Linked DNA regions of Homo sapiens. The protein of the gene in region 1 purifies or fractionates together with the protein of each later gene. This does not show direct contact. Each region holds a gene or a part of one and is shown on either strand. Other genes may lie near its edges. The genes, in order: ZNF7 and SOX13.

Region 1 (3,357 bases):
TGGTACTTGCATTTGCTTGAGTGCTCGTTCTCTGACAGGCCCAGTAAGGCATGTTTCTCTACATTGTTTCCTCTCAGTACCCTCTCACAGTGCATGTTTTCAGATACACAAATAAGGCTCTGAGTTTCAGGGAGGGCAATGATGTCCTAGGTCACACAGCAAGCCCCTGGGACACAAGTGTGACCTCAGAACCTTGCTGTGACACCTTGCTTCTGTGCCTGGCACTGGTATGTGCTCCATAAATGCCAACCACACCAGTAATGATGGCGTGTACCTGCTAGCCCAGCCTGCCTCTCTGAGGAAGGGGATAGGGCTGGGCCCTCTGGTCCTGGGTGGCTGGGTTAAGTTCTAAGACAAGGACCTAATTTGAAGTTGGAATTCTAGGCACTCCTGGACCTCCTCCAACATGAGCTAATGCATTTCCGTATTGTTGAAGCCAGTGTGAGCCACTGATACTTAAGGGAAAAGAGTTTAGGTAAATTATTTTAACCTACTCAGTCTAGCAGCGCTCGTAGAGCCCTCCTTGTGCTGCTTCCTCATTCACAGGGACCTGTCAACTCAAAACTGCAGACTGCACCCTGATTTTGAGGGACACAGGCTTTATTGAACAGGTTAAGGTCAAACATTTCAGGAAATAAACATACATTTTGTATGAAGTTGGATTTTTTTTTTTTTTTTTTTTTTTGAGAGGGAGTCTCACTCTGTCACCCAGGCTGGAGTGCAGTGGCGCGATCTCAGCTCACTGCAAGCTCCGCCTCCTGGGCTGATGCCATTCTCCTGCCTCAGCCTCCCGAGCAGCTGGGACCACAGGTGCCTGCCACCACGCCCAGCTAAATTTTTGTATTTTTAGTAGAGATGGGGTTTCACCTGTTACCCAGGATGGTCTCAACCTCCTGACCTCGTGATGTGCCCGCCTTGGCCTCCCAAAGTGCTGGGATGACAGGCATAAGCCACCACACTCGGCCTGAAGTTGGATATTCTTGAGAGCAATTCTGAACCTTTACCAACATTCTACATGTTTGTCAGTATAAACGATTCCATATAAAATAAGTAAGTTAAGGCTATAGGTTTATTCACATATATACACATTTATATGTAAGTGGTCTATCCCATGTGAATTTTTTGATGCTGGGTAAGCCTTGAGCTACGATTAAAAGCTTTGCCACAGTCATTGCATTTATAAGGCTTCTCCCCGGTGTGAATTCTCTGGTGTATAATTAGGTGTGAACGCCACCTAAATATCTTCTCACAGTCTTCACACTGATGCAGTTTCTTTATAGTATTAACCTTTTTACGGCTCACAAAGGTGGACCCTTCCAGGGCATTCCCATATTCGTAAAACCACTGGGCCCTAGTGTGTATTCTCTGGTGTTCAATAAGATATGAGCTCCGGCTGAAGGCTTTTCCACACTCACTGCACTCATAGGGCTTCACCCCTGCATGAATTATCTGGTGTTGGAAAAGGGTTGAGTTTTGACTGAAGGCTTTCCCACATTCATTACATTTATAGGGCCTCTCTCCAGTGTGAACCCTTTGATGTATTGTAAGCTGTGTGCTCATACTGAAGGCTTTTCCGCATTGGAGGCATTCGTAGGGCTTCTCTCCTTTATGGATTCTCTGATGGTAAATAAGGCTGGAACTCTGACTGAAGGCTTTTCCACAGTCATTACACACATAGGGTTTCTCTCCAGTGTGGATTCGCTGATGCTGAATAAGGTGTGAGCCCTGAACAAAGCCTTTGCCACACTCATCACATTTAAATGGTTTTTCTCCAGTGTGAGTTCTCTGATGGCGAATAAGCCGTGAACTACAACCAAAGGCTTTTGTACACTTGTTGCATTTATAAGGCTTCTCTCCAGTGTGAATCAGCTGATGCTGACTCAGGCGAGAGATCCACCTAAAAGCTTTCCCACACTCATCACACTTAAATGGTTTCTCTACAGCGTGAATTCTCTGATGTGCAACAAGGCTTGGACTGTCTGAGGCTTTTAGAATTTGAGCTTTCTCCCCAGTATGCATCCTTTGATGCTGGGCTAGGGTGGAGCTCTGGCTGAAGGCCTTCCCACACTCCTTGCAAGGGTAGGGCCTCTCCCCAGTGTGAGTTCTCTGGTGTCTAACCAGCTGCGACTGCTGGCTGAAGGCTTTCCCACACTCACGACAACCATAGGGCCTCTCTCCTGTGTGGATTCTCTGATGGTGGATGAGGCTTGAGCTCTGACCAAAAGCTTTTCCACATTCCTCACATCTGTAGGGCTTCTCCCCAGTGTGGATTCTTTGATGCTGAATAAGTTTTGAGCTCAGGCGGAAGGCTTTTCCACACTCAGTGCATTTAAAGGGTTTCTCTCCCGTGTGGATTCTCTGATGCTGATTAAGCTGCGAGCAGAGCCTGAAGACTTTCCCACACTCTGCACATTCGTACGGCTTCTCTCCATGGCAGTTATTTGTATGTTTCCCCTGCAAGCAGTCAGATAACTTTTTTTGGCATTCTTGACATCTGCTAATTTTCTGTGTATTAATTTCCCAATGCAGAGCGATATCTGAAGTGGCTCTGATGCCTTTGCCACACTCCTCGCATCTCTGGGACATCCCTTCCGCACTCTCTCCCTGACTTTCAAGAGGCTGACAATCCAGGCCGCTGCTTCCCAGCTCCTTACATCCCTGGGGTGCGTCCTTGGTGAAGGTCTTGGGAACCACAGTCTCCTCATTCAAACAGTTATTTTGGAAGGTAAAGCCTGTCACTTTCAGCCCGGGACTGCCCAGATGACTGTCTAACCAGACCTCAGAATCAGAAACGTCTCCAAAGCCAGGATTCTGAGGAAAGTCCTGTGGGGAGATTCTGACCACTGTCCCATAGGATTCTGATTTTAGGATGTCCATGTCCTCACAGGCCTGCTCATTTTCAGTCCTAATCGTAGAATCTGAAATAAACAGGAACAAAGACGTTCCTTAGGCCCTGTGCTCAGAGAAATGATAAGACTACAAATGCGGGGGCCAGGGCTCAAGGCTCCCAGGATAGTTGCACTGAGCACTGTGAGGCCCCAGGTGGAAACGTGCAAGAGAAGGCAGAGCCTTTGACAGTTCTCAAAAGTGGTTTCATACTTTTTACCTTGTTCACTCATTCGATAGCAATGAATGTTCATTGCTGGGGCAGGGCTGGGTTCTGTGAGCAGAGAGGTCCATCCTACAGGCACTGGTGTGGGGCACAGTCCATGCAGAGGCAAAGGAGACAAAGCAAGACCAGAAGGGTGGGAAGCTACCACGGATTGGGCTGCGGGGTCAGGGGCTCCAGCATCCGAGCTGGCGAGGAAACAGTACAGGGTCTGAGTTCTGAATGGAGAGCATGGATTGTGATGAGGA
Region 2 (4,022 bases), on another chromosome or scaffold:
CCAACCTCTGCCTGTCACCCCTGACTCCCAGCTGGCCTTACCCATTCAGCCCATTCCCTGCAAACCAGGTGAGTGTGAGAAGGGAGGTTCCACCACTGCGGCCAGCCTGTCCTGAGGTCAGGGAAAGCGCCCTGGAGCCACTCTCATCCATTAATTTGCTATGTGGACTTTCTGGGCCTCAGTTTTGGATCTGTCTGGTAGAAGAATCATCCTCTTTTTCTGAATCTTGCTGAATTTCTCTGAACTTCACTGGGAGAATGAAAAACCATAAAGCCCTTTCCAGATGTAAAATGATGTAGCAATCCAGGTCTAGTCTCTCCAACTCTAGTACATTTACTGTGTCAGAGTATTAATATCTGGAATATTGCCAGGTGTGGTGGCTCACGCATGTAATCCCAGCACTTTGGGAGGCCGAAGTGGGTGGATCACTTGAGGTCAGGAATTCGAGGCCAGCCTGGCCAACATGGTGAAACCCCATCTTTACTAAAAATACAAAAATTAGCTGGGTGTGGTGGTGCATGCCTGTAGTCCCAGCTACTCAGAAGACTGAGGCAGGAGAATCGCTTGAACCTGGGAGGTGGAGGTTGCAGTGAGCTGAGATCATGCCACTGCACTCCAGCCTAGGTGACAGAGCGAGACTCCATTTCAAAAAAAAAAAAAAAATCTGGAATATTAACTGGGTTTTACAAATCTCCCAAATTCTTTTTTGTTTGTTTGTGTTTTGTGTTTTGAGACAGAGTCTTACTTGTTCTGTCACCTGGGCTCTGGAGTGCAGTGGTGTAATCTCAGCTCACTGCTGCAGCCTCCACCTCCCATGTTCAAGCGATTCTCCTGCCTCAGCCTCCTGAGTAGCTGGAATTGCAGGTGCACACCACCATACCTGGCTAATTTTTGTATTTTTAGTAGAGACGAAATTTCGCCGCGTTGCCCAGGCTGGTCTCCTGACCGCAAGTGATCCTCCCGCCTCAGCCTCCCAAAATGCTGGGATTACAGGCGTGAGCCAACATCTCCCAAATTCTAACAGCCACGATTCCTACCTTCACACTCTTGTCCCTGCCTACACCATGTCACTCTGGCCTTCTACCCCATCACTGAAATTCAGCAGAATGGCCATGTGTCAGACAAGGGTGTGGGACCTGACGGTACAGGGCAGTTGGGGAGGGAGCATGGAGTCTGGGATTTATTTTGTAGGCTGTGGGGTGCATGTGAACATTTGAGAAGTGAGTGTGTCGTTCTGGCTTTGAGGGGTGGGGAGTGGAGGGGAGACTGGCCAGAAGCAGGACCTGCTAGGTGATTCTAGCAGCAGGGGATGATACCTGAACTAGGGCAGTGACAGAGAGTTATGGGGACAGGGCAGAGATGCTGCCCATAATTACCCCAGGAGTGTGGACAGCTTTAAAGGCAACACGTGCTAGATCATCCTCCCTGTTCCACAGGCGAGAAAGAGAGAGAGAAGAGGAAATTCCCTGAGGCCTATAGGCCATGGGCTTGGGTAGACTGCTCAGCCCCACTGGCTCTCTGCTCCTGCCTGGTTTGTGCCGGGCACTGTAGGGTGGTGTGAAGGGGAAACACAAAGGACTGAGAAAGCCAGGCCCCATCTTCATCCATTCAGGGGCTGTAGAAAGACACCATGGACCGTGTGGCTCATAAACAACAGATGTTATTCCTCACATACAGTTCTGGGGGCTGTGAATTCCAAGATCATAAAGCCAGCATATTTGGTGTCTGGTGAGGGCTGACTTTCTGGTTCACAGATGGCGTCTCTCACTGTGTCCTCAGGTGGTGAAAGGGGTAAACGGGCTCCCTCAGGCCTCTAATCTCATTCCTGAGGGCTCCACCCTCATGACCCAGGCACCTCCCAAAGGTCCCACCTCCTAAGTCTATCACATTGGGAATTAGATTTCAACATAGGAATTGGGGTGGGGGAGGCACATTCAGACCATAGCATTCTGCCCCAGACTCTCCCCAGTTCATTTTCTTGTCATATGCAAAATATATTCATTCCATCCCAATAGGCTCCCAAATCTTAACTTGTTCCAGCATCAGTTCAAAAGTTTCAAGTCCAGAGCCTCATCTAATCTCACCTAGGCCAGGCACAGTGGTCATGTCTGTGATCCCAGCACTTTGGGAGGCTAAGGCAGGAGGATTGCTTGAGGCCAGGAGTTCAAGACCAGCCTGGGCAACAAAGTGAGACCCTGTCTCTACAAAAAAAAAAAAAAAGCCTGGCATGGTGGCCTGTGCCTGTGGTCCCAGCTACTTGGGAGGCTGAGGCAGGAGGATTGCGTGAGCCCAGGAGGACAAGGCTGTAGTGAGCTGTGTCTGTACCACTGCACACCCTCCTGGGAGACAAAGCGAGACATACAGAGTGAGGCCCTGTCGCAAAACAGACAAAAATAATAATAAATCTCACCTAAATCAGTTATAGGTAAGACTCAAGGTATAATTCATTCTGAAGCAAATTCCCCTTCAGAACTGAGGCATGAATTTCTGAGGTCTGTAAGCTGTCCAGTTTATGGCACTTTGTTTCAACAGCCTGAGTAGACTAAGACAGGCCCAATGTGGAAGTTTCCAGTTAGCTGGGGGAATGGGGAGTGGAGAAGGTTGAAGGTGGAGGACAGGGCAATTCCAAACCATTGCAACTCCCCATGAGTGTGGAGGAGAGCTGTGGAGGCAAGGGGACAGTGATCTGGTCGGGGATAGGACCCCCAACTGCTTTCTGGGCAGGTAAGGCAGTAAATAAGCTGTGGGAGCCCGGGACTGGCATGGCTGCCTCCCACTTTGTTTGCTCCAGAAATTAAGCAAGCAAGGTCCCTTGCAAAAGCTGACTGTAAACAGTGGCCCTCCCCAGCTCACAAGCCTTACATGGTGCTCTGTACCCACAGCATGGGCTCCGTACTCCTGACCTCGGCCTTCATGGGCCTCGGGGCCAACCTGGCCCCCATGGCCTGCCTCATTCCCCACAGCTCACCCTCACACACCCCACCACTCCATCTCTACTTGCCCAAATCCTGCCCATCCTGCAGGCACTAGCGCACACCTCGGCTCCCACAGGGAGCCTGCTCTAGTTACCCCAGCTGGAGCAGAGTTTGCTGGTGCTCTGTCTGTGTGGCCCTCATCACCACCTGCCATGCACTTCATGATTTCTACATGTGGCCTATCTCTCCACCTGGATGCTGGGCCTGGGAGTGAGGTAGGGTAGGCAGGAGTGCCATGTCGAGAAGAAGGAAAGGCTGTGGAGTCTAGAGGCCCTGGGTTCAAATCCTGATGCTGCCATTTCATAGCTCTGTGGACAACCCATTTTTCTTCTTATTTTTATTTTTTTAGTTTTGAAAATTTTAAATTCTTTTTTTTTTTTTTTGAAACAGAGTCTCGCTCTGTCCCCCAGGTTGGAGTGCAGTGGTGCAATCTCGACTCACTGCAACCTCCGCCTCCTGGGTTCAAGCGATTCTCCTGCCTCAGCCTCCTGAATATCTGGGATTACAGGCGCGTGCCACCGCACCCGGCTAATTTTTGTATTTTTAGTGGAGATGGGGTTTCACCATGTTGGTCATGCTGGTCAGGGTGGTCTCGAACTCCTGACCTTGTGATCCACCCACCTTGTCCTCCCAAAGTGCTGGGATTACAGGCGTAAGCCACCACGCCTGGCTTCAATTCTTAATAATAGAGATGGGGGTCTTGCTATGTTGACCAGATTGGTCTTGAACTCTTGGCCTCAAGCAGTCTTTCTGCCTCAGCCTCCCAAAGTGCTAGGCATGAGCCACCACACCCAGCCCCATTTGACTTCTAAGGTTTTCATTTCTTTTTCTGTAAAATGGGATGATGATGTATTCAGCCCCTGTTATATATCACATACCATGTATTATTGTCAGATGATACATATGAGACGTTCTACACAACAGGCAGCCGCTTTTGTGCCCTGTGCCCAGTAGGTACAAAATAAAAGTAGCTGTTGGATGAATAGGTGTTTTACCCTCTCTCATTGTGCCATTGGATGGGACTCTAGAATCTGGGAAACTCTATTT

Evidence for each region.
Region 2: the proteins of ZNF7 (region 1) and SOX13 purify together in Homo sapiens (affinity purification with mass spectrometry; one large-scale study listed by BioGRID and IntAct). This does not show direct contact.

The regions. Positions count from the first base shown.
Region 1 is NC_000008.11:144,840,916-144,844,272, reverse strand, and holds the end of ZNF7 (zinc finger protein 7), read right to left. Parts: exon of another isoform or gene 2,919-3,357; coding exon 1,105-2,918; 3' UTR 501-1,104; downstream 1-500.
Region 2 is NC_000001.11:204,117,640-204,121,661, forward strand, and holds part of SOX13 (transcription factor SOX-13), read left to right. Parts: coding exon 1-68; intron 69-4,022. UniProt on the Homo sapiens protein: Transcription factor that binds to DNA at the consensus sequence 5'-AACAAT-3'. Binds to the proximal promoter region of the myelin protein MPZ gene, and may thereby be involved in the differentiation of oligodendroglia in the developing spinal tube.